Homo sapiens: one gene and its partners. The protein of the gene in region 1 interacts with the protein of each later gene in a biochemical or structural test. Each region holds a gene or a part of one and is shown on either strand. Other genes may lie near its edges.

What was found.
Region 2: the proteins of TOPBP1 (region 1) and RHNO1 form a complex in vitro, tested with the Homo sapiens proteins (2 studies listed by BioGRID).
Region 3: of the proteins of TOPBP1 (region 1) and ATM, one has a biochemical effect on the other in vitro, tested with the Homo sapiens proteins (one study listed by BioGRID).
Region 4: the proteins of TOPBP1 (region 1) and PARP1 form a complex in vitro, tested with the Homo sapiens proteins (one study listed by BioGRID).
Region 5: the proteins of TOPBP1 (region 1) and ATR form a complex in vitro, tested with the Homo sapiens proteins (one study listed by BioGRID).
Region 6: the proteins of TOPBP1 (region 1) and CDC45 form a complex in vitro, tested with the Homo sapiens proteins (one study listed by BioGRID and IntAct).
Region 7: the proteins of TOPBP1 (region 1) and MDC1 are reported together in a solved structure, tested with the Homo sapiens proteins (3 studies listed by BioGRID, with this or other methods).

Annotation. Positions count from the first base shown.
Region 1 is NC_000003.12:133,651,942-133,655,441, reverse strand, and holds part of TOPBP1 (DNA topoisomerase 2-binding protein 1), read left to right. Parts: coding exon 1-152; intron 153-1,917; coding exon 1,918-2,097; intron 2,098-2,812; coding exon 2,813-2,979; intron 2,980-3,500. UniProt on the Homo sapiens protein: Scaffold protein that acts as a key protein-protein adapter in DNA replication and DNA repair. Composed of multiple BRCT domains, which specifically recognize and bind phosphorylated proteins, bringing proteins together into functional combinations.
Region 2 is NC_000012.12:2,880,223-2,883,722, reverse strand, and holds part of RHNO1 (RAD9, HUS1, RAD1-interacting nuclear orphan protein 1), read right to left. Parts: intron 1-3,500. UniProt on the Homo sapiens protein: Involved in microhomology-mediated end-joining (MMEJ) DNA repair by promoting recruitment of polymerase theta (POLQ) to DNA damage sites during mitosis.
Region 3 is NC_000011.10:108,324,067-108,327,566, reverse strand, and holds part of ATM (serine-protein kinase ATM), read right to left. Parts: intron 2,258-3,500; coding exon 2,023-2,257; intron 1,510-2,022; coding exon 1,342-1,509; intron 1-1,341.
Region 4 is NC_000001.11:226,401,594-226,405,093, forward strand, and holds part of PARP1 (poly [ADP-ribose] polymerase 1), read right to left. Parts: intron 787-3,500; coding exon 621-786; intron 1-620. UniProt on the Homo sapiens protein: Poly-ADP-ribosyltransferase that mediates poly-ADP-ribosylation of proteins and plays a key role in DNA repair.
Region 5 is NC_000003.12:142,554,734-142,558,233, reverse strand, and holds part of ATR (serine/threonine-protein kinase ATR), read left to right. Parts: intron 1-1,658; coding exon 1,659-1,851; intron 1,852-2,094; coding exon 2,095-2,357; intron 2,358-3,500. UniProt on the Homo sapiens protein: Serine/threonine protein kinase which activates checkpoint signaling upon genotoxic stresses such as ionizing radiation (IR), ultraviolet light (UV), or DNA replication stalling, thereby acting as a DNA damage sensor.
Region 6 is NC_000022.11:19,510,920-19,514,419, forward strand, and holds part of CDC45 (cell division control protein 45 homolog), read left to right. Parts: intron 1-3,500. UniProt on the Homo sapiens protein: Required for initiation of chromosomal DNA replication. Core component of CDC45-MCM-GINS (CMG) helicase, the molecular machine that unwinds template DNA during replication, and around which the replisome is built.
Region 7 is NC_000006.12:30,707,282-30,710,781, reverse strand, and holds part of MDC1 (mediator of DNA damage checkpoint protein 1), read left to right. Parts: intron 1-2,424; coding exon 2,425-3,216; intron 3,217-3,327; coding exon 3,328-3,398; intron 3,399-3,500. UniProt on the Homo sapiens protein: Histone reader protein required for checkpoint-mediated cell cycle arrest in response to DNA damage within both the S phase and G2/M phases of the cell cycle.

The DNA of each region.
Region 1 (3,500 bases):
TCCTATTTTTCTTGGTTGCATAATCTGTGTGACTGGCTTATGTGGCTTAGACAGGAAAGAAGTTCAGCAACTCACAGTTAAGCATGGAGGTCAATACATGGGACAATTGAAAATGAATGAATGTACACACCTCATTGTGCAAGAACCAAAAGGTAAAACTGTGTTTCACAAAGGGACAAATGAAACATTTTCTCTAGTATTTAATATTTTATTTTTATTTATTTATTTATTTATTTTGAGACAGAGTCTTGCTCTATTGCCCAGGCTGGAGGGCAGTGGCACAATCTCAGCTCACTGCAACCTCTGCCTCCCTTGATCAAGCGATTCTCCCAACTCAGCTTCCCGAGTAGCGGGATTACAGGCACCTGCCACCACGCCTGAATAACTTTTTATTTTTAGTAGAGACGGGCTTTCACCATGTTGGCCAGACTGGTCTCTAACTGACCTCAATTGATCTTCCCACCTCAACCTCCCAAAGTCCTGGGATTACAGGCATGAGCCACCGTGCCCAGCCACTAATATTTAATATTTTAAAATCTTTACAGAACAGCTTTTACTTCTGACATGTCATTAATCTAGTTTGATACTGTTTTCTCTAACATCTTGCAAAGATGTTTTCTCTAACATCTTGCAAAGTTTTAACTGGAAGACACACCTTGCGGCACATGAGGCAGTAAAAAATGAAAAAGACATTACGAACAAGAAAAATTCTTTAAAATTGCTATTAAGTTTGGTGTTACATAACATTATTCTGGATAATTTTTTATCAGCACTCTTAAAATATACACAAATTGATAAAAGATGAGTTTTGTTAATGTTTTTATTATTGCCCTTTATATGTATACTGTGTTTTACTAAGCTATCTAGATTGAGAAGAAATTACGATTAAATGGTAATTGTCCTTAAGTCAGAACTTTGAGTATGGCTGATTGTGATAGGATCACTGTGAGTAGAGTTGATACTGCTGTTCTTTTTCTGAATCTGAAGACAGTTCATTGTTGATTCTCTCAAGAATGCCAAAAAACCTTTCATGTGACATATTGACCTCAATTCCTCTGTGATACTGCTTCAAAATACATTGTGTTGAAGATTTTTAAGGTAATAAAAGATACATATTTTCAATATAATTTATCTTTTGGCTTATCTATCCTGGACTTTAAGTAGAAGCCTGTTGACATTGGAATAGTCTGTTCAAAGTTGGGATTTATTATATAGCACAAATTTACAATTTTCACATTGTACAAGCTGGTTTAAAGAAATTAAGTGATGGAGCCTATATGCAAACCCAAGTCCAATATTAATTAAGTTACCCCACAGTTGCTTCTGTCTTCCTGCAGTTTGTATAAAAGATAAAACCTCTCACATGGCATATGTATTTATACTACACATAGAAAATATAATTAGGCAATAAGCTAAAATACTACTTTGTAATAAACTGTGTAGCATACTGTTTAAGAGTAAGTACTGGTAACTTTAATTTTGTTGATAGGTTTTTGAAATAACCTGTTATAGCCGGGCGCGGTTGCTCACGCTTGTAATCCCAGCATTTTGGGAGGCCAAGGCAGGCGAATCACCTGAGGTCAGGAGTTTGAGACCAGCCTAGCCAACATGGTGAAACCCCGTGTCTACTAAAAATACAAAAAAATTAGCCAGACATGGTGGCACACGTCTGTAATCCTAGCTATTCAGGAGGCTGAGGCAGGAGAATCGCTTGATCAGGAGGGAGGTGGAGGTTGCAGTGAGCCAAGATCTCACCACTGTACTCCAGCCTGGGCAACAGAGTGAGACTCCATCTCAAAAAAAAAAAAAAAATATTAACCTGTTATAATTTGAATATTTCTGCAAAGATAGATTGTAATGGTTTTCATTTCTTGGTTTCTCCTATTTTCTCTATTTCTTTCTTAATGAACGCCACAGGTCAGAAGTATGAGTGTGCCAAGAGATGGAATGTACACTGTGTGACCACACAGTGGTTTTTTGACAGTATTGAGAAAGGTTTTTGTCAGGATGAATCCATATACAAGACAGAACCTAGACCAGAAGCAAAGACTATGCCCAATTCTTCAACTCCTACCAGCCAGATCAACACAATTGATAGTGAGTCTCATTGAGATTAAAATAATTATTCTGAAGACAGTCATATTTCTATGTAATAATCAGTATGTTAATAGGATCACTGAGATAGGGAATTTCTTTTTCTTGTTTGCTGTGCTTCTAGGCATAATTGTATAATAGTCAAATTGTATAAAAAGTTAGCACTGAACTGTTCGTAATTTTCTTTTAGAATGAATGAATGCTGTCTTTTATACTCTGTTGTAATGCAAAAGATGATCAAAGAAATTAAGAACAATGGTAGCTGGGGGCTTAAGATAAAAGTATTAATCTTTTAAACATTACATGCATATATTAATCTTTCCTTAATTTACAGTTTTGCTGCAGTTATAGATCATCTGTATTTGTATAAAAATTAAAACCATTTCTATTTTGTAGGTGTCGTGTTGGCAAAATGTTTAAAATATTTTTTCAAATGTAAGCTTCTTGGACCTTAAAGTCAGCAACTTCAGATTTTTATGGGAAACAAGACACTATTAAGAAAATGTGTTAAATCTATTTTCATTTAAATAAGATAGGAGGCTTAATTAATTTCATTTTCCCTTTTTATACTTTGCCACTAAGATTTCAGTAAACACCCCTGAATCTTACTTTGGAAGTTGTTTATTGCCCTATATTTGTAAGAAAAGTTAATCCATAGACAATATGTAATCATGATTATTTTATCTCCCATAAATTTATACGTTTTCAAAATATGTAGGTCGTACTCTTTCAGATGTCAGCAATATTTCCAACATAAATGCAAGTTGCGTAAGTGAATCAATATGTAATTCACTTAACAGCAAACTGGAGCCTACACTTGAAAATCTAGAAAATCTGGATGTCAGTGCATTTCAAGCACCTGAAGATTTATTAGATGGTTGTCGGGTACGTCTTTATTATATAATACATGCAGTAGATGATATACATTAGCATTTCCTAGCCTGACTTTGAAGACCCTTCAGAGTTGGGCTTGCTCCTTACTATCTATGTAAACCCTCCACTCTAGCTAAGTAGATGCACTTACTAGACCATGTCCATCCTTTGGCTGCGAGAGTCCCTCTGCCTGCAAGGTATCTTCCTCTGTTATCTTTTAAAAGTTCATTTCAGGTTTTAACTCTTCTCTGAACCCTCCTAACTACATTAATCTTTTCATCTGCTATATTTCGAGAGCACTTAGTTTCTGAACAACTTATTGGATTTTTTTTTTTTAATTTTTTTGAGTTAGGGTCTCACTCTGTTGCCCAGGCTGGGATGCAGTGGCACAATCATAACTTCCTGTAACCTTGAACTCCTGGGCATCAGCCACCCCTCAGTCTCCCGAGCAGTTAGAACTACAGGCATGTGCCACTACACCTGGCTAATTTTTAAAATTTTTTTGTAGAGACAAGGTCTCACTATGTTGCCCA
Region 2 (3,500 bases), on another chromosome or scaffold:
CCAACGTGGAGAAACCCTGTCCCTACGAAAAATACAAAATTAGCTGGGCGTGGTGGCACATGCCTGTAATCCCAGCTACTCGGAGGCTGAGGCAGGAGAATCGCTTGAACCCGGGAGGCGGAGGTTGCGGTGAGCAGAGATCACGCCATTGCACTCCAGCCTGGGCAACAAGAGTGAAACTCCGTCTCAAAAAAAAAAAAAAAAAAAAAAATATATATATATATATATATATATATATATATATATTCTATCCTTCCCATTAATATGACTAAACAAATATATAAATTCTTTAACATTAACAAATATCCAGCCAGCCAGTGTTCCCATTTTCTTTTTTTTCTTTTTTTCGAGATAGGGTCTCATCTGTTGCCTAGGCTAGAGTACAGTAGCATGATCATGGCTCACCACAGCCTTGACCTCCCAGGCTCAGGTGATCCTCCCACCTCAGCCTCCCAAGTAGCTGGGACTACAGCTCGTGCCACAGCGCTGGCTAATTTTCGTATTTTTGTAGAAATAGGGTTTCGTTGTATTGCCCAGGCTAGTCTTGAATTCCTGAGCTCAAGCTATCTGCGCACCTCAGCCTCCCAAAGTGCTGGAATTACAGGTGTGAGCCACCACACCCCAGGTTTTCTATGTGTTTTTTTTTTTTTTTTTTTGAGACAGGGCCTTGCTCTGTCACCTAGGCTGGAGTGCAGTGGTGTGATCATGGATCATTGCAGCCTCAACCTCTAAAGCCCAAGCAATCCTCCCACATCAGCTTCCTGAGTAGCTGGAACTACAAGCAAGCACACTGCACCTGGTTAACTTTTTTTGAAACATTTTTTATAGAGATGAGGTCTCACTGTGTTGCCTAGGCTGGTCTCAAATTCCTGGGCTCAACCAATCCTTCCCTCCTTAGCCTTCCAAAATACTGGGATTACTAGCAGTTCTTTAGATAGGCCTTCCCTAATAACTATGTCTAAAATAACAGTCAACTCAACCCCTTGACCTGTTTGATTTTTCTCTATACTTTTATCTTTTGAGACGGAGTCTCACTCTTTCGTCCAGGCTGGAGTGCAGTGGCTTGATCTTGGCTCACTGCAACCGCCACCTCCCGAGTTCAAGAAATTCTCCACCCTCAGCCTCCCCAGTAGGTTAGATTACAGTCACCTGCCACAATGCTTGGCTAATTTTTATATTTTAAGTAGAGATGAGGTTTCACCATTTTGGCCAGGCTGGTCTTGAACTCAGTTGAGACCTCAACTGATCTGCCTGCCTCGGCCTCCCAAAGTGCTGGGGTTACAAGCGTGAGCCACCATGCCTGGCCCCTCTGGTAGCCTTCTAACTGAGTTCCCTGCTTCCTTTTTCCACCCCCATCTCCAACCCGACTTTTCTCACAAGGTGCCTAGAGCATCTTTTTTTAAAGTTTTATTTATTTATTTATTTATTTATTTATTTATTTATTGTAGAGACAGGGTCTTGCTTTGTTGCCCAGACTAGTCTGGAACTCCTAGGCTCAAGCAATCCTTCTGCCTCGCCCACCCAAAGTGTTGGGATTACAGGCATGAGCCACCACGCCTGGCCCAGATCAACTTTAATAAGGGCTTCTTTGGTGGAATGGTGGGACACAAGGTTGAATGCAATAGGTAGAGAGGTAAATGAGAGTTGCAGCTGAGCATGCTGGAAAGACACAACAGAGCAGGTTGGTTCTATGCATTTGTGATCCATTCAATCAACAACAAAAAATAATATGCTTTGACTTATATGACTAGGCAGTAGAGATACAGGTTAAGAAAAAAAAGGACACAGTTTCTCTTTTTTTCTTTCTTTTTTTTTTTTTTGATGGAGTCTTGCTCTGTTACGCAGGCTAGAGTACAGTGGCGCGATCTTGGCTCACCACAACCTCTACCTCCTGGGTTCAAGCGATTCTCCTGCCTCAGCTTCATGAGTTGCTGGGACTACAGGCGCACGCCACCATGCCTAGCTAATTTTTGTATTTTTAGTAGAGACGGGGTTTCGCTATGTTGACCAGGCTGGTCTCGAACTCCTGACCTCGTGATCCACCCGCCTCGGCCTCCCAAAGTGCTGGGATTACAGGCGTGAGCCACCATGTCCAGCCAAAGTTTCTATTCTTAAGGAACTAACATCTTATAGAAAACACAAAAAATATATATATCCATTTGTTCATTCACTCATTCATTCACTTGAGAAATATTTACTGAGTGCCTACTGTGTGCTAGGCACTGTTCCAGGTGCTGAAAATATATACCAGAGAATAACATAAAACCTCTGCCCTTGTGGTGCTTACATTCTAGTCGGAAAGGAATAAAAAGTATAGAGAGGCCGGGCGCAGTGGCTCATGCCCTTAATACCAGCAGTTTAGGGAGCTGAGGCGGGCAGATTACTTGAAGTCAGGAGTTCAAGACCAGCCTGCCCAACATGGTGAAACCCCATCTCTACTAAAAATACAAAAATTAGCCAGGCGTCATGGCACACACCTATAATCCCTGCTACTCAGGAGGCTGAGACAGGAGAATCGCTTGAACCCGGGAGGCGGAGGTTGCAGTGAGCCGAGATCACGCCACTGCACTCCAGCCTGGGCAACAGAGCGAGATTCAGTCTAGAAAACAAACAAACAAAAAGCTACCACAGAAATCCAGTGAAAAGATAACAGTGGTAGCAATGGCTATAGTTTTGAAATTCATGACTTGCTGAAAGTCATCAGCTTCAAATGGGTACGTTGCTCAGCAATCCTGTTTCCTTGATCAACTCATTCTCCACAAAGATTATCTTAAAACTTCTCCAAGCTAGGTGCAGTAGCTCACGCCTGTAATCCCAGAACTTTAGGAGGCTGAGATGGGAGGACTGCTTGAGGCCAGGAGTTCAAGACCAGCCTGGGCAACATAGAGAGACCTCGTCTCTACTACAAATTTAAAAGAATAATTAGCTTGGCATGTTGGCATGTACCTGTAGTCCCAGCTACTTGGGAGGCTGAGGTGGGAGGATCACTTGAGCCTGGGAATTTGAAGATATGGTGAGCTATGATCGTGCCACTGCACTCTAGCCTAGGTGACAGACAGACCCTATCTCAAAATAAATAAATAAAGTGGAAATTTTGTTTGTTTGTTTTGAGACAAAGTCTCACTCTGTTGCCCAGGCTGGAGTGCAGTAGCGTGATCTCGGCTCACTGCAACCTCCTCCTAGGTCCAAGCGATTCTCCTGCCTCACTCTCCCAAGTAGCTGGGATTACAGGCGCCCTCACCACGCCCAGCTAATTATAGTATTTTTTAGTAGAGATGGGGTTTCACCACGTTGGCCAGACTGGTCTTGAACTCCTGACCTCAGGTGATCTGCCCACCTCGGCCTCCCAAAGTGCTGGGATTACAGGCGTGAGCCACCACGCCCAGCCTGAACATTTTTATTTTAATTTTTAAAATTATTTTTAGAGATGGGGTCCTGTTCTGTTGCCCAGGCTGGAGTACAGTGACACGATCATAGCTCACTGCAGCCTCAAACTCTTG
Region 3 (3,500 bases), on another chromosome or scaffold:
AAGCAGGTTAAAAATGTTTTTCCTTGGTGGGTGGGAAAAAAAAAGTTTTTCCTCATCTGCTTTTGCCATACAACTATTTTAATAATCCCATGTAGGAAATGATCATCCTCTGTTTATTATTATTATTGCCATTATTGGAGCAAGTCACATTTATTGAGTACTTATATATGTCAGACACTTTGTAAAGGCTTTATATATATTAACTCATTTAATTCTCACAAGAATCCTATTAAATAAGTACTATTATTACCCCAATTTGCAGATTAGAAAACTGAGGTACAAGGAAGTTGGGTAACTCCAGACAGCACATACTTCAGGGCCAATACTATTAAGCAATATTTACACATATCATATTGGCACTCAGTGCTTTGGTATAATGATTTCTCTAATAACAGAAGATGCTATACAATGAGTGCCCAACATCAAAAAGTACAGTAAAGGCCGGGCGTGGTGGCTCACGCCTGTAATCCCAGCACTTTCAGAGGACAAGGCGGGTAGATTGCCTGAGCTCAGGAGTTCGAGACCAGTCTTGCCAACATGGTGAAACCCCATCTCTACTAAAAATACAAAAAAATTAGCTGGGCATGGTGGCATGTGCCTGTAATCCCAGCTACAAGGGAGGCTGAGGCAGGGGAATTGCTTGAACCAGGGAGGTGGAGGTTGCGGTGAGCCGATGTCGTACCACTGCACTCCAGCCTGGGTGACAGAGCAAGACTCCGTCTCAAAAAATAAATAAATAAATAAATAATAAAGCACAGTGAGCTGATATTCACTAAGCAGGTACATGTCTGTGGGACACCACTGTAGACAAACCTTGGGGACACCAATGCCTCTACTTTATCCAGTGTGTATGCTGGGTTTACAGCTGAAGTAGCAACATAAGTTTGCAAAAACCAACAGGTAATGTTAGATAAAATATTAGATGTGATATTTTCAAAGCATTTGGATTGACAACCTAATTGTCCCAACTTGCTTTTATTTTCTAATTTAGTTCTCTCATTCATTTCCTCTTCCCTTTTTTCACTTGTCATTTCAAATTTAGAGTAGCTATTTCATTCATTTCCCACATACCTTTCTTGAATTCTATAGGAAGTTAAAGGCTTAATACTGGGATATATTAAATGAATCGACCACATGATGGACTGATAGAATTGTGATATATAGGAAAAAGTTTCTAAACTTCATTTACAAATTAATTTTCAAGACTAGTTTTACAATATCTTGTTAATAAATTACTAATTTCAAGGCTCTAATAAAATTGTTATTAAAAATATTTTAAAGTACATTTGTGTTTTTTTAAATAACAGTAAAACACTAATCCAGCCAATAAAAAAAACAAACCGCTGCACAGCTGGCATCCAACTTCTTGATCATTTGCTTGAGAATACTCAGGGCAAGACTCTGCTCCTTTTTTGCCCAGAATACTTGTGCTTCTTCCAGCTGCCACTCAGAGACTCCACAGCTAACTGAATTGTACTGTTTAATTTGAAATATTGCCCTTTCAGGGAGCTGAAATGAAAATGACATATGGGAATAAATACTTTTACTACTGATACTACTACCATGAATAATAATAATAATGAAAGCAGCAACTACCATTCATTGAGGACTTAACTACTTGTCAGGGACTATCTTAAGGACCTCTCTGTCTGCATGACATCTCCCCACCCCACGTCTGCCTATCTGTCTGTCTGTCTGTCTCTCTCTATATGTATGTATGTGTATCTGTGTGTACATACACACAGTATATAAAATCACTGAATTGTTATCAATATAGTAAGTTACGTATCTTCTCATTTTATAACCAGGAAATTGAGGTTGAGAAAAGATTAAGTACCCTTGCCCAAGGCTTAAAAGTCAGATCTAATTCCAAAATGGGAACTCTTAAACAATTATTTTTACTATATATTAATAGAGATCTCTATCTCTTAATGACATTTCTTTTTCCCTCAGGCTTTCTGTTTTTTAAATAATAAAAGGAAAGTCAAGAGGTAAGATGACATAGTTTTAAATTGTATTTACCTGAGTGTTCTTGAAAGTTCTGGCCAGTATAGAGAGTTCTACAAGGTGTTTGGTGAGAATGTCCTTAATACATTCTCTTTGTGAGTTGTCCATTTCCTTTTCCATCAGGATCTCCAAAATGACTGTGCGTAGAGCCATGATAGGCTCCTGAAAACTAAAATCACTGTCCTTGAGAAGCTGGGAGTGTTTCTGCCACTTAATATATACTTCAGAGAGTTGTCTATGTGTGACTGATCTGAATGCCACGACATAGAGTTCATGTAAGCAAGAGAAATGAAAAAAAAAAAAAAAAAAACTATGTAAGTTCTGGAACTTACGATATAATATTATAATAATACAAAGGAACTTTTGTAGTGACAAGACTAGAACTTGTAAATAATCCTACATATGGATCAAAATTTAGAAAACTACAAAATGCTATGCGGTCAGAGCTCTTAAGAGTTATTAGCAGAGAGGTCACAGATGACAAACATCAAAAAAAATTTTTAATACTCTGACATTACAAAAAGCAGCCCTTCTAAATACTCTTCTGAAACAAGAACATATTCATCAGACCTATCATAAAGAATGCCTCCATCTTTAGTCCTGCTTCAATACTGCCTGTAGTAATGAGGACATGTCAGCAAGGAAATGAGGGACCCCCTACTGGGGATGACTTGATGCATAATTATAGCTGTCAAAAAAATCACAATCCAGTGAAGGAAAAGCTGGCATCTGGCAAAGGTTTCATTTACCAACATTATTAAAGGAACAGAAAAGGCATATTGCACAATTAGTTTATATGAATAGTATCCTTCCCAAATAACTGAACTATGAAATACTACCCAATCCTTCAGGGACATTTATTGAAAGAAATAAGAAAGAGGAAGCAGGGAGAGTAAGATGACAAAGTGATGACTAAGAAATGAAAGCTCTTTTAGTTGCTTGATAGGGAAGGAACAGTAACAAAAATGCTAGGAACCAAAACTTCAATTCCTCTCTAAATGACCCTACCACAGCAGGTCTCAAACTTTTTGCGGAACTCCTTTACAATCAAACAAATTATTGAAGACCCCAAAGAACTTTCGATCGTTGGACCATATCTACTGATATTAGATATGATATCATATTAGAAAGACTGAGAAAAATCTAAAATGTATTAATTTATTCAAAAATAATAAATCTACTATATATCATAAATAACAATTTTTAGGAAAAATAACTACAGTAGTTTCTCTGTATCTGCAGAAAATTGGTTCCAAGACACCTTGATAATGCTGATGTTCAAAGTCCCTTATTTAAAATGGCAGGGCATTTTCCTATTACACGTAACCTCTAGATTGTGCTTTTATTAAACATTTCCAAAAAGTATTACACATAACCTCTAGATTACGTGTAATAGGAGAATGTGCACAGGTTATACATAAATCTCTAATTACATATTATACCTACTATAATGTAAATGCTATGTAAATAAGTGTTATACCCTATTCTTTAAA
Region 4 (3,500 bases), on another chromosome or scaffold:
CCCTGCTTTAGTTAGTCCTCGGTTTGGTTTGGTGTCTGAGCCCCACCTCCTACCTCATTCCCCTCTCAGAGATGAGCTATTCTTCCTTAATCTTAAGGGGGCTGCAGAAGGGTGCAGGTCTGAAACTACTCTGTATGATACTATAATGGCAGATGCATGTCATCATACATTTGTCCAAACCCATAGAATGTAGAGCATCAGGAGTTTCTGGACTCTGGGCAATAATGATGTGTCAGTGTAGGTTCCTCAATTATAACAAATGTACTACTCTGGTGGGAGGTGTTGACAAGGAAGAGCCTGTGTGGTGGGAGGGGGAGGGGGTACTGGAAACTCTTTGTTCTTTGCTTACTTTTGCCATGAACAAAAATAAAGTATATTAAAAACAAAACAACTTTAAAGGCTACATTCCAAGCACCTGGAAAAACAAAATACCAAATATCATGCAACAGATGATGCTGAGTCCAGGAGGTGTTGCTGAAATAACATGGGCACCATACGCTTGATCTGCACATGTGGGAGAGGGCAAGCTGGGGGAGGTTTGCTTTGCTCTCTGAGACGAGGCCCTCCTGGGAGCTTCAGGGTGGGGGCTGAATGCCCATGCTGCCCCAGTATGTACACACCTGTCACTCCTCCAGCTTCCGCTGTCTTCTTGACTTTCTGCTGGTCATCCCACCGAAGCTCAGAGAACCCATCCACCTCAACGTCAGGGTGCCGGATGGAGTGGCCCACCTTCCAGAAGCAGGAGAAGTGGTACCAGTGTGGGACTTTTCCATCAAACATGGGCGACTAGAAGGAAGAGAAACAGAGGGAAGTAAGTAAGCAGTTAACTTTTGACTTAGACCCACTAGACCTTGACCTTGACCTCGACCCCAGTCCCAGCCCCAGCAGTGGGATAGCACATGAAACTTTTGTTCTCCTATCTGTGAAAGGAGGACAGCCTCCGCTCTCACATGAAGAGCTGCAGCATCCTTCTCACGATCTTCCCCAAGGGTCAGAAGACTGTAGCCCACTGTTCTTGAGCTCATTCTCTTAGGACACCAAACACAGCCACGAGAAAGGTGGCCTTTTACCACTGAGCTCTGCCCCACGTCCCTTTTGACCACACACTGCTACATTTAGTGGTGAGCTGCCTCATGGCCTAGTGAAATGCACAGAAGACACTTGTGCAGAGTCACAATCCTGCAGCATCTGCTGGGAATGGCCAGACAACTGCTCCAGGCTTGCCTGGACTCAAAGGGCCTGTGTGCCCCAGAAAAGGGCTCTTTAAGTGCCTCTGCAGTTAAGAATAACAAGGAACAAGTCCCAGATAATGAGCAAAGCAGAGAAAGTGTGTCAGAAAAAAGTGTCAAGCTTGCAGCAGCCACACAGATGGGAGTGGAATGAATGGAGGTCTTTGAGGCAACTGTGACAGCGGATGGTTCGGGGCAGCATGCCTAGAGCTGGAGTCAGCTGCTCACTGGCCTTCTGGGGCGCAGTTTCCCAGGCGTAGGACCTGAGAAGTCTGGCCACAGGGAACACAGTTCCCCTCTCCAGGTGGTTTGCTTCCCACTAGGCCTTTCATTGTGACAGGGTCAGGTTCTGCTCCCAGGCCTCGAGCACTGTCTGGCTTTGTTTTTGAGACCGAGTCTTGCACTGAGTGCAGTGGTGCGATCTCAGCTCACTGCAACCTCTGTCTCCTGGGTTCAAGCGATTCTCCTGCCTCGGCCTCCTGAGTAGCTGGGACTACAGGCACGTGCCACCCATGCCTGGCTAATTTTTGTATTGTTAGTAGCAATGGGGCTTCACCATGTTGGCCAGGCTGGTCTCGAACTTCTGACCTCGTGACCCGCCCGCCTCGGCTTCCCGAAGTGCTGGGATTACAGGCATGAACCACTGCACCCAGTCCTGGCTTTACAGAGTGGACGGTGACAGCGATTGGGAAGAAGGGGAAGACACAGTATGTAGTGTGTGTCCCTGCTCCTTTCATAAGCCATCCTGTGTAATCCCACAATCTGCCTCTGGGTGGGAACCAGCCCTTTCATTCACAGATGGAGACAGTGGGGCTGGAAATCCTTGCCTGGGGGGTTGGGAGTCACAGAGGCAGCAAATGAATGATTTGACACTATGATTCCTCCCACCACACTCCACTGCCCGGCAGGAAGAGCTACTTAAAAATACACCAACTGTGATCTGACTAAAGTAAGGGAAGTCCCAAACATCTGCTTTTATAGAACATAAAGCTAAATGTCACACAGATGCAATAAGACTATTAAAACAGCATTAAAAGTAAATGTGCTGAATTTTTAGGATGGAGTTGCGGGGACAGGGAAAATACTCTGGAAAAGCAATGATAAGGTACCCCACTATCTCTCTCCACTGTGAGTGGCCTCTTTCTGGATGTGATGTATTAAAATGCACAGCTAAGACTATGGCAGCACAAGGACTCCTCAACATCAGCTTTCCCCTGGGTCTGGAATGCTCTCCAGCCCTGTTCAGAGCACTCCCTCAGATCTCCCAATGCTCCTTCCACAGCTCCCCTCACTAAGAACTATGCATTTGGTGATTATTTCATAAGGGCCTATCTTGCTATTCTCTAGCAACATGTCACAGAGGGCACGCAGTGTTTGCTTAGGGCTCCAAGTCAGATGGAACAAAAAAGGAAGGATGGGGAAATTCCTGCTGTAGAAGAGACAACAAATGGCATTTCTGAGAGCATACTCATGTTCCAACTCTCAAACGTTCCACCAGATCTCAATTAGGCTGCTGATACAGATCCCTAAGCATCTGGCTATCATGGAATATTTGCAATGGCCTCGACCTGGCTCTGCCTGCTTGTCTACCCCTTGTCTACCCTTCCTGTGCAATGTTCCAGTTACCCTTGTATAAAGAGCACAGGTAATGGCTATGGCACTTCTTCCTGGCTCTGCCAGGGGCCCCAGACCTGCTGCCCTTTGGTCTGGGTGCTGTCTCCCCCAACCACCGGCACAGTGCTGGACACCCTGGAGGTGCTGCCCAATGGTGCAATCACAGCACAAGCTTAGAGGACAAGAGCCTCAGCAGAAGCACCCCTGACCAAAGCAATGCTTTGCCCTAAACTCAGGACTGAGAATGATGTGGCAGAAAGGCACCAAACCAAGGTCACAAGACTATCGACTCCATTTGTTAGCTGCACAGCTGAGGCAAGGCACAGAATCTTTGGCTGTGCACCCAAGCAAAAACTGAGCACCTAACATACCAGGGTCCTCACCCAACCAGCAGCTGGTGAACTGGGTTCCCTTCTGTGCAGAACAGGCCATGCTACCTGTCCACCTAGGCCACAGAGAGAATGAACTGACCTCACTGCATGCCTCCGGGTGCTCAAACCCTCCCAGGACAGAGCAACTCAAAGGTCTACCGCCATCCTCCTCCCACCAAAATGCTGGAGGGCCCAGCTCATCCCTCCCAAGATGCCCCAGGCATGAGGGCTAAAGTGTCAGGTATCAGATACTCAGAGAACAATACTCCCATGTAAATGTAAAAGA
Region 5 (3,500 bases), 8.9 Mb from region 1:
GTTTGTTTTAACTCATCTCTATATAGGACTTCTAAGACTTATTTATATTTTTTTCAATAATTAAAAGAGCAGGTACATTTTTAATAGTTCAGAAGGGGGTTAGATACATAAAAAGTAACACATAAAAGCCTGCCCCACATATCCCATTTCCTTTCTTTTTGTAAAACATTTGCAATGTGTCCTTACATATCATTATCTTCATTTAATAAAATTAGGAAGTATTTGAGAAATATTTTAAAAAGAAGAACAATATACCAAAAATTCTTATACCAACTTCTCAGTTTAAGAAATAGAAACATTAGGCCAGGCACGGTGGCTCACGCCTGTAATCCCAGCACTTTGGGAGGCCAAGGCATGCGGATCTCTTGAGGTCAGGAGCTTGAGACCAGCCTGGCCAACATGGCAAAACCTCATCTCTTCTAAAAATACAAAAATTAGCCAGGCATGGTGGCTCACGCCTGTAGTCCCAGCTACTAGGGAGGCTGAGATACAAGAATCTCTTGAACCCAGGAGGCAGAGGTTTCAGTGAGCCAAGATTGCACCCCTGCACTCCAGCCTGGGCTATTAGAGATATGATGGAAGCCTTTGTCCCTCTATGATTTCATTCCCCTCATTTTTTTCCCCAGAGATTACTACTGTTCTGAATTTGGTGTTGATTGTTCTGTTGAATGTTCTATTACTTTTACTATATATGTATTTATTTATAAATAATATAAGAAATTGTTTTGCTTCTTACAGCTTACATTTTGTTGATCAACACTATCTTTATGAGACTTATCCATGGTGATATGGGTAACTCTAGTTTTTATTTAAACTTCCAAATAGTAGCCAAATTTGGATGGACACTATCAGACCTCCTATTGGTGGACAATCAAGTTGTTTCCAACTTTTCACAATTACAAGCAACATTTAAATGAATATTTTTATAAATGATTCTTTAGTCATTCTAAGTCCTTGCTGTTTGAAAAGTATGCTCCACAGACCAGTAGCATCGCCACCATTTAGGGACTTGTTAGAAATGGAGCGTCTTTGATTCTGCTGAAAGAGCACATTAAAAAAAAAGAGAGAGAAAGAAAGAAATGGGGAATCTTATGCTCCACCCAGACCTACTGATCAGAATCTGCATTTTAACAAGATAGGTGATTCATATCCATATTAAAGTTTGAGAAGCATTATTTTAACGTTTTTACCTACCTAGGAGTAGTATTGTTGGGTTATAGAGTTTGCACATCTTCACCTCTATTCTGCTGTATTGTTCTCCAAAGATACACCAGTTTACACTCCTGTTAGCAGAGTATGAGTTCCACATCCTCACTGACACTTAGCTGACTTTAAAATTTTTGCTATCTAGAAAATAAAAAATGTCATGGAGTTAAGTATCTTAAATTTTTTCTTTTTCCTATCTGGTAGGTATGATTTTCAATTTGCATTTCCTTGATTATTTAGTAAGGTTGTGTATAGACCTTTTTCAGTGCACTTGCTTTATTTTCTGAAAAGGAGCTTTTAATTAAATTAGGTATTAAATGTATTTTAAGTGTTACTTGACTTTTATTTATATATATGTATACACAAATGTTACTTTACTTATATATATGTATATGTGTATACATAAAATTAACATTAGTAGAAATCTTGTTTAATAGACTTAATTTTTTCAGCACCACAGGCACAATCACGATGTGTGTTTCTTCTGACTCTGTTTCCAAGAAGAATATTCCTTGAGTGGAGAACAGCAGTTTACAACTGGGCCCTGCAGAGCTCCCATGAAGTAATCCGGGCTAGTTGTGTTAGTGGATTTTTTATCTTATTGCAGCAGCAGAATTCTTGTAACAGAGTTCCCAAGATTCTTATGTATGTACTAAGATTTTAATTTGAATATATCACTCTATTGGAAAGATCATAATTGTCTGGCTATGTATGCAGGGTTGTGTTTATTGTTGAATATGTAAAGCAAATGTTGCTTTTAGTTTTAGAATTTAACATTTTTTCCTTCTAGGCTTTGTTTTACCAGTACTTTTGTCCCAAATTAAGCAAGACTATTTAGACCACAAAATTAGGCAAGAAAGTTTAGTACTTTTTCTTTTTTTTCCCCAGAGATAAAGTCAAAGATGATTCTGACATTGTCAAGAAAGAATTTGCTTCTATACTTGGTCAACTTGTCTGTACTCTTCACGGCATGTTTTATCTGACAAGTTCTTTAACAGAACCTTTCTCTGAACACGGACATGTGGACCTCTTCTGTAGGAACTTGAAAGCCACTTCTCAACATGAATGTTCATCTTCTCAACTAAAAGCTTCTGTCTGCAAGCCATTCCTTTTCCTACTGAAAAAAAAAATACCTAGTCCAGTAAAACTTGGTGAGTGATTATGACTTATTTAATACTTTAAAACCTATTTAAGCTCTGCTTTTCAAATCAGTAAAAGAATTAGACTGAAGCCTTGAAAAATTACAGGAAGTTACATGCTTTATAGATTCAGTGCTCAGTATTGATTAGTTATAAATGGGATAACTGGTATTAGATCGCATCACAAAACTGGTAGGAGAGGTGATTTTGGGATTTTTCGAATACTCTTGTGATTTGACAGCCTAAATGGGGCATACCTGATGGTTGTTTCAATATTGTAAGATTCAATATTAGATTATCTTCTTTAGTGATACCAGAGATCGTCTTAATGTGCCCCCTGTTACAACCTTGGACCTTGAGAACTTCAAATAGTTAAATTACTTTGCCCAACTGAGGACTATAGAGTGTATCTTCTTGGCCACTTTCCAGTGGTAATGGAGTATAAATTTTTATGAAGTATGAGATTTATACAAATACTTAGAAGATCCATTTGTTTAGGTAGTAAGTTGAAACTTGTTCTGAAGTTTCAATAGAAACTTTCTATTGAAAGCAATAGAAAGTACTCCCTAAATCTTGTAATGTAAGGTTAACAATAAAGCTAAGATCCCCTTGAGAAATGTGCTTTTCTTTTTTTCTTTTTTTTTTTTTCCCCGAGACGGAGTTTTGCTCTTGTTGCCCAGGCTGAAGTACAATGGCGCCATCTTGGCTCACTGCAACCTCTGCCTCCTGGGTTCAGACGATTCTCCTGCCCCAGCCTCCGGAGTAGCTGGGATTACAGGCGTGTGCCACCAGGCCTGGCAAATTTTTGCATTTTTAGTAGAGACAGGGTTTCACCATGTTGGTCAGGCTAGTCTCCAACTCCTGACCTCAGGTAATCTACCCACTCTGTCCCCCCAAAGTGCTGGGGTTACAGGCATGAGCCACCATGCCCGGCCTTTCTTCTTTCTTTTTTTTTTTTTAAGAGACAGGGTCTTGCTCTGTCACCCAGGCTAGAGTGCAGTGGCGCAATCATGGCTCACTGCAGTCTGCATCCTTGATCTCCCAGGCTCAAGTGATCCTCCCACCTCAGCCTCTTGAGTAGCTGGAACCATAGTATGTGCCACTACACCCAGCTAATTTTTAAATTTTTTGTAGAGAGGGATCTCACTTTGTTGC
Region 6 (3,500 bases), on another chromosome or scaffold:
CCTATTGACAATTATGACTAATGCTGCTGTGAACTTGCATGTACAAGTTTTTGTGTAGTCATGTCTTTGTTTCTTTTGGTTATATACCTACATGTGGAAATGCTGGGTGACATGGTAACACTAGGTTTCAAGGAACTGCCAGATTTTTGAGGAACTGCCAGACTTTTCCACAGCAGCTGCACCATTTTACATTCCCACCAGGAGGGAGGGTTTCAATTTCTTCACATCCTCACCGACACTTGTTATTGTCCATCTTTTGGATTACATTCATCCTAGTGAGTATGAAGTGGTATCTCGTTATGGTTTTGATTTGCATTTTACTGATGACTAATAGTGTTGAGCATCTTCTCATGTGCTTATTGGTCATTTGTGTATCTTGTTAGGAGAATTGTCTATTCAAGTCCTTTGTCTTTTTTTTTTTTTTTTTTTGAGACAGGGTGTCACTCTGTTGCTCAAGCTGGAGTGCAGTGGTGCAGTCATGGCTCACTGCAGCCTCAAACTCCTTGGCTCAAGCCATCCTCCCACCTCAGCCTCCTGAATAGGTGGGATTACAGGCATGAGCTACCACACCTGCTAATTTTTAAATTTTTAGTAGAGATGAGATCTTACCATGTTGCTCAGGCTGGTCTCAAACTCCTGGGCTCAAGCAGTCTTCCAGCCTTGGCCTCCCAAAGCACTGGGATTATAGGTATGAACCACCGTGCCCAGCCTAAAACTTTTATATATTCTACATACAAATCCCTTATCAGATAAGTAATTTGCAAGTATTTTCTCCCATTCTGTAGGCTGACTTTTCACTTTGGCAGTGTCCTGTGAAGTATAAGATTTGTTAATTTTGATGACATTTAAGTTACCTACTTTTTCTTTTGTTTCTTGTGCTTTTGGTGTCATATCTAAGAAACCATTGCCTAACCCAAGGTCATGAAGATTTCACATTATTTTTTCTACTAACACTTTAATAGTTTTAGCCCTTACATTAGGAGTATGATTCACTGGAGGTTTTTTTTTTTTTTTTTTTTGAGACAGGGTCTTACTCTGTCACTTAAGCTGGCATGCAGTGGCATGATTTCCACTCACTGCAACCTCTGCCTCCCAGGTAGCTGGGACTACAGGCATGTGCCACTGCACCTGGCTAATTTTTGTATTTTTTGTAGAGACATGTTGGTCAGGCTGGGCCCCTTACTCTTTACTATAGTCTCCTTACACTTCAGCAAGGCCCCTTGCTCTTTACCATGCCCCCTTATACTTTACCAGGCTCCCTTGCTGTTTAACAGGACCCCTTGCTCATTACCAGGACTCCTTGCACTCCAGGGAGGCTCCTTAAACTTTCCCTTGGCCCACTGCACTCACCTGCTCTTGCATAGGGCAAAACTCTCAGTTTGGGCCGCTGCTCTCCAGTTGCCTGGAGTTTTAAGTCTTCTTAGGTCTCACTACCTCTTGGCTTTCTCTCGCACTGATGTAGATAGTATACCTGTCTGGCTGTTCATGGTCTCTTTTTACCTGCTTACACTTTGGGGTTTGAAGTGTTCCCTTGTTCTCTTAATTTGTTGCAAATGTGGGTCCTAGGTTTTTGGTTTTGCAATCTAGTTGCTCTACTTTTATCTAGAAATTTGGGAAAATCCAAAAACTATTTTACCACTGTTGCTGCCATCATCCCAGCATTGATGGGTAGGCTTTAGACATTGTCTACCAACTTCCTGCTATGACAAAGGAGCATTTATCCCACTCTTGTCCACCTTCCCTCCTGTTGGTACAGTTTTGCCACTATTTTTAACTTCTTTGTAACTTTAACATATTTATGTCTTCTTTCATCACTAGTATCTCGTCTCCCTACTTTGTAAGAAAAGGATATTTAAAACACTCTTAGTCCATTTTGTGTTGCTATAAAGGAATACCTGAGGCTGAGTAATTTATAAAGAGAAAAGGTTTATTTGCCTCATAATTCTGATGGCTGGAATGCTCAAGATTGGGCATCTGCATCTGGTGAGGGCCTCAGGCTGCTTCCACTCATGGCAGAAGGGGAGCTGGTGGGTGCAGAGACCATGTGGCAATGGAGGAAGGAAGAGAGAGGAGGAAGGTACTAGGCTCTTTTTAACAACCGTCACGGGAACTAATAGAGTAAGAACTCACTTACACCCCCTAGCCCCAGGGAGAGCATTCATCTATTCATGAGGGGTCTGCACCCATGACCCAACACTTCCCACTAGACCCCACCTCGAAGATCTTGGATCAGATTTCAACATGAGGTTTTGAGGGGACAAATGTCCAAGGTGTAGAAACAGCCTTACTTTGCTCTTCAGTGCTGCTCAGTACTTTCTGAAATTTGTGCTTTTACGTTTTCAAGACTGATAACAATCTTGGGTTAGAGAAAAAGATATAAATTGTCTTATCTTTGGTTACAGGTTGATTTTAAAAGTTGAAAGTAAACAAATAGTTTTACTTTATTGTGCTAATAAACTATTCCAGAGACAATCATGTGTAGTAATAGATTACTATCTGGCACGGCTCTTTGTTTTTCCTGCTGTTTTTAATTGCCTCCTTTATCACATCCATTTTTTTCTCCTCCAAACTCCTTCCAGCTGTTTTTCTGTGAGCCCCTTTTTGCTGGAGAGTCTGGGGTTCTGTCTTCCCACCACAGCCTGGACCTACAGCTCTCTAGACCTGCTTTCCACTGTCCCCATGGATGTCCAAATCTTGGCTGTGCCTCTTAGTTTAGTCCAATGTTTCTTGGGATCTTCATCTTTGTTTCATTTACTCCCTCATTAAATTAGAGCACAGTTCTTAAGTAACATTCAAAGAAAGGGCGCATGTGAGATAAACTTTCTGAGTTCTTATATATCTGACAATATCTTTATTTTACTATTTCTTTACTATTCCCCCCACAGAAAACATCCGTGTTTTTTATTCTTGCTTTTCAGGCTTCCTGGAATGACGATGCTCTGTCTTATTTTTTTGCCTTACATTTTCCATAGCTTTGTCTTGTTATCTATGTTGAGGAAGTTTTTCTTGACTCCAGACTTGGAGTGGATGTTTTATCTTTTGCAACTGTTTTAATTTCCATCAACATTTCCTAGTTTTTAACTCTTCCTTTTTCATAGCATCCTGTTCTTGGTTTAGGAATGTAAGAGTTGCACACATCTCTCTGAAGATACTAATTAGAGTTCAGTTTAACTTTCTTTAGTTCTCCAAATTATCTGTTTCTTCAGGGTTATTTTTTTAGGCCATAGGCATTTCTCAAATGGTCTGATGTCTTTCATATTCAAGAACGGGATTGTGGACCCTTGGCTGGGCCATGGGTATCTGGGCACAGCTCACTGGTCATAAGACATCGTTTCACCTTAGCAGGCAGGAGCCAACTGTGACACTTTGGGACTCCCCACTGTAGGGCCCAGAGGCTTTGCTTGAGGATTCTACTTATTCACAGATGGTACATTTCATATACTCAGAGGGGAGCCTCCCTTTTTGTGGGGAAGAGTAAAAATCTATCTGTTGGGTTTGAG
Region 7 (3,500 bases), on another chromosome or scaffold:
ATTGCAGCACTGTTCACAATAGGCAGATATGAAATCAAACTAAATGTCCATCAACAGATGAATGGATAAAGAAAATGTAGGCCGGGGTCGGGCACAGTGGCTCACACCTCTAATCCCAACACTTTGGGAGGCCAAGGCAGGCAGATCACCTGAGATCGGGAGCTTGAGACCAGCCTGACCAACATGGAGAAACCCCGTCTCTACTAAAAATACAAAATTAGCCGGGTGTGGTGGTGCATGCCTGTAATCCCAGCTACTCAGGAGACTGAGTCAGGAGAATCCCTTGAACCCAGGAGGCAGAGGTTGCAGTGAGCTGAGATTGTGCCATCGCACTCTGGCCTGGGCAACAAGAGTGAAACTCTGTCTCAAAAAAACGAAAGAAAAGAAAATGTAGGCCGGGCACAGTGCCTCATGCCTGTAATCCCAGCACTTTGGGAAGCCGAAGTGGGTGGATCACATGAGGTCAGGAGTTTGAGACCAGCCTGGCCAACATGGTGAAACCCTGTCTCTACTAAAAATACAAAAATTAGCTGGGCATGGTGGCAGGTGCCTGTAGTCCCAGCTACTCGGGAGACTGAAGCAGGAGACTCATTTGAACCCCGGAGGCAGAGGTTGCAGTGAGCCAAGGTCACACCACTGCACTCCAACATGGGCAACAGAGTGAGACTTCATCTCTAATAATAAAAAAAAAGAAAATGTGTATATAGGCTGGGTGCAGTGGCTCAAAATACAAAATTTAGCTGGGCATGGTGGCATGCACCTGTAGTCTTAGCTACTCGGGAGGCTAAGATGGGAGGATTGCTGCCTAAGACGCAGAGGTTGCAGTGAGCTGAGGTCATGCCACTGCACTCCAAACTGGGTGACAGAGCAAGACTCAATCTAAAAAAAAAAGAAAATGTGTATATATACACAGTGGAACAGTATTCAGCAACAGAAGAGAATGAAATCCTGTCATCTGCAGCAACATGGATGAACCCTGAGGACATTATGTTAAGTGAAATAAGTCAGCACAGAAAGGCAAATATTGTATGCTCACTCATGTGGGAGCTAAAAACATGGATCTCATGGAAGTAGAGAGTAGAATGGTGGTTACCAAAGGCTAGGAAGGGTAGAGGGACAGAATGCATAAAGAGGTTGGTTAATGAATACAAAAATCCAGTCAGATTGAATGAATAAGTTCTAGTGTTCAGTTCCACAGTAGTGTTACTATAGTTAATAATTTATTGTGTATTTCAAAATAGCTAGAAGAGATTTGATATGTTTCCAAGACAAAGAAATGATAAATGTTTGAGATAGTGGATATCCCAATTATCTTGGTTTTATCATTGTACATTGTATGCATGAGTCAAAATAGCACAGGTACCCCATAAATATGTACAATTATTATGTGTCAATGAAGAAAAAAGAAAATGTGGTATATATACACAGTGGAATACTATTCAGCCTTTAAAAAGAAGGAAATTCCAGCCAAGCATGGTGGCTCACACCTGTAATCCCAGCACTTTGGGAGACCAATGTGGGTGGATCACTTGAGTCTAAGAGTTCAAGACCAAACCCCATCTCTACAACAAATACAAAAAATTAGCCGGGCACTTTGGCACATGCCGTAGTCCCAGCTACTTGGGAGGCTGAGGTGGGAGGATCTCCTGAGCCCAGCAGTTGGGAGTTGCAGTGAGCCAACATCATGCCACTGCACTCCAGCCTGGGTGACAGAGTGAAACTGTCTTGAGAGAGAGAGACTATTCAGGGAACTCTCTTATTAGGCTATGATGTTTTTCTTTCTTTCTTTCTTTCTTTCTTTTTTTGAGACAGGGTCTCTGTCACTCAGGCTGGAATGCAGTGGTATGATGAGAGACTATTCAGGGAACTCATATTAGGCTATGATGTTTTTCTTTTTCTCTTGGGTTTTTTTTTTTTTTTTTTTTTGAGACAGAGTCTCTGTCACTCAGGCTGAAGTGCAGTGGTATGATCACAGCTCACTACAGTCTTGACCTTTGGGGTTCAAGTAGTTCTCCTACCTCAGCCTCCCGGGTAGCTGAGACTACAGGACTACAGGTCCCCGTCCCCACACCTAATTTTTTTGTATTTTTTGTAGAGATGGGGTTTTGCCATGTTGTCCAGGCTAGTCTCAAACTCCTGGCCTCAAGCAATCCTCATGTCTTGGCCTCCCAAAGTCCTGGGATTACATGTCTGAGCCACCATGCCCGCCTAAGGCTATGACCTTTTTGAGACAAACGTTAAATGTTATAACTACCACCCTTATTCCCAGCTTACCTTTAATAACCTGTTCAGATTTATTATTCATGAGTTTATCTAAATCCTTTCTCATCATATTTATTATGTCAACCTGTACTTCCCTTTCCCTCTTCCTCTCCCTCTTTTCTCTCCCTCTCCCTCTCTCTCTCTTCCTTCCTCCCCTTCCAGGTACCCTAGATGAACCATGGGAGGTCCTGGCTACACAGCCATTCTGTCTGAGAGAGTCTGAGGACTCTGAGACCCAGCCTTTTGACACGCACCTTGAGGCCTATGGACCTTGCCTGTCTCCACCTAGGGCAATACCAGGAGACCAACATCCAGAGAGCCCAGTTCACACAGAGCCAATGGGGATTCAAGGCAGAGGGAGGCAGACTGTGGATAAAGTCATGGGTATACCAAAAGAAACAGCAGAGAGGGTGGGCCCTGAGAGAGGGCCATTGGAGAGAGAAACTGAGAAACTGCTACCAGAAAGACAGACAGATGTGACAGGAGAGGAAGAATTAACCAAGGGGAAACAGGACAGAGAACAAAAACAGTTGTTAGCTAGAGACACCCAGAGACAAGAATCTGACAAAAATGGGGAAAGTGCAAGTCCTGAAAGAGATAGGGAGAGTTTGAAGGTAGAAATTGAGACATCTGAGGAAATACAAGAGAAACAAGTACAGAAGCAGACCCTTCCAAGCAAAGCATTTGAGAGAGAAGTAGAGAGACCAGTAGCAAACAGAGAGTGCGATCCAGCCGAGTTAGAAGAGAAGGTGCCCAAAGTGATCCTGGAGAGAGATACACAGAGAGGGGAGCCAGAGGGAGGGAGCCAGGACCAGAAAGGGCAGGCCTCCAGCCCAACACCAGAGCCTGGGGTGGGGGCGGGGGACCTTCCGGGACCTACCTCAGCCCCCGTACCTTCTGGGAGCCAGTCAGGTGGAAGGGGATCCCCAGTGAGCCCCAGGAGGCATCAGAAAGGTAAGTGAAGGCAGAGGGGAACCCAAGGTGATACACAGGCCTCGTGATAATCAACCCCTGGGCAACCAGCTGCTTGGAACTCAGCCACCTTTGTGTTTACTTTCTGTCTAGGCCTCCTGAATTGCAAGATGCCACCTGCTGAGAAGGCTTCCAGGATCAGAGCTGCTGAGAAGGTTTCCAGGGTGAGAGCTACTTTTTCTACCTCCTATTCCACAAGTCATCTCTATATCTTCTCCAATGCTCTTTCACCTAGCCTCACTTTAATCTATTCCTTTCTCATTATT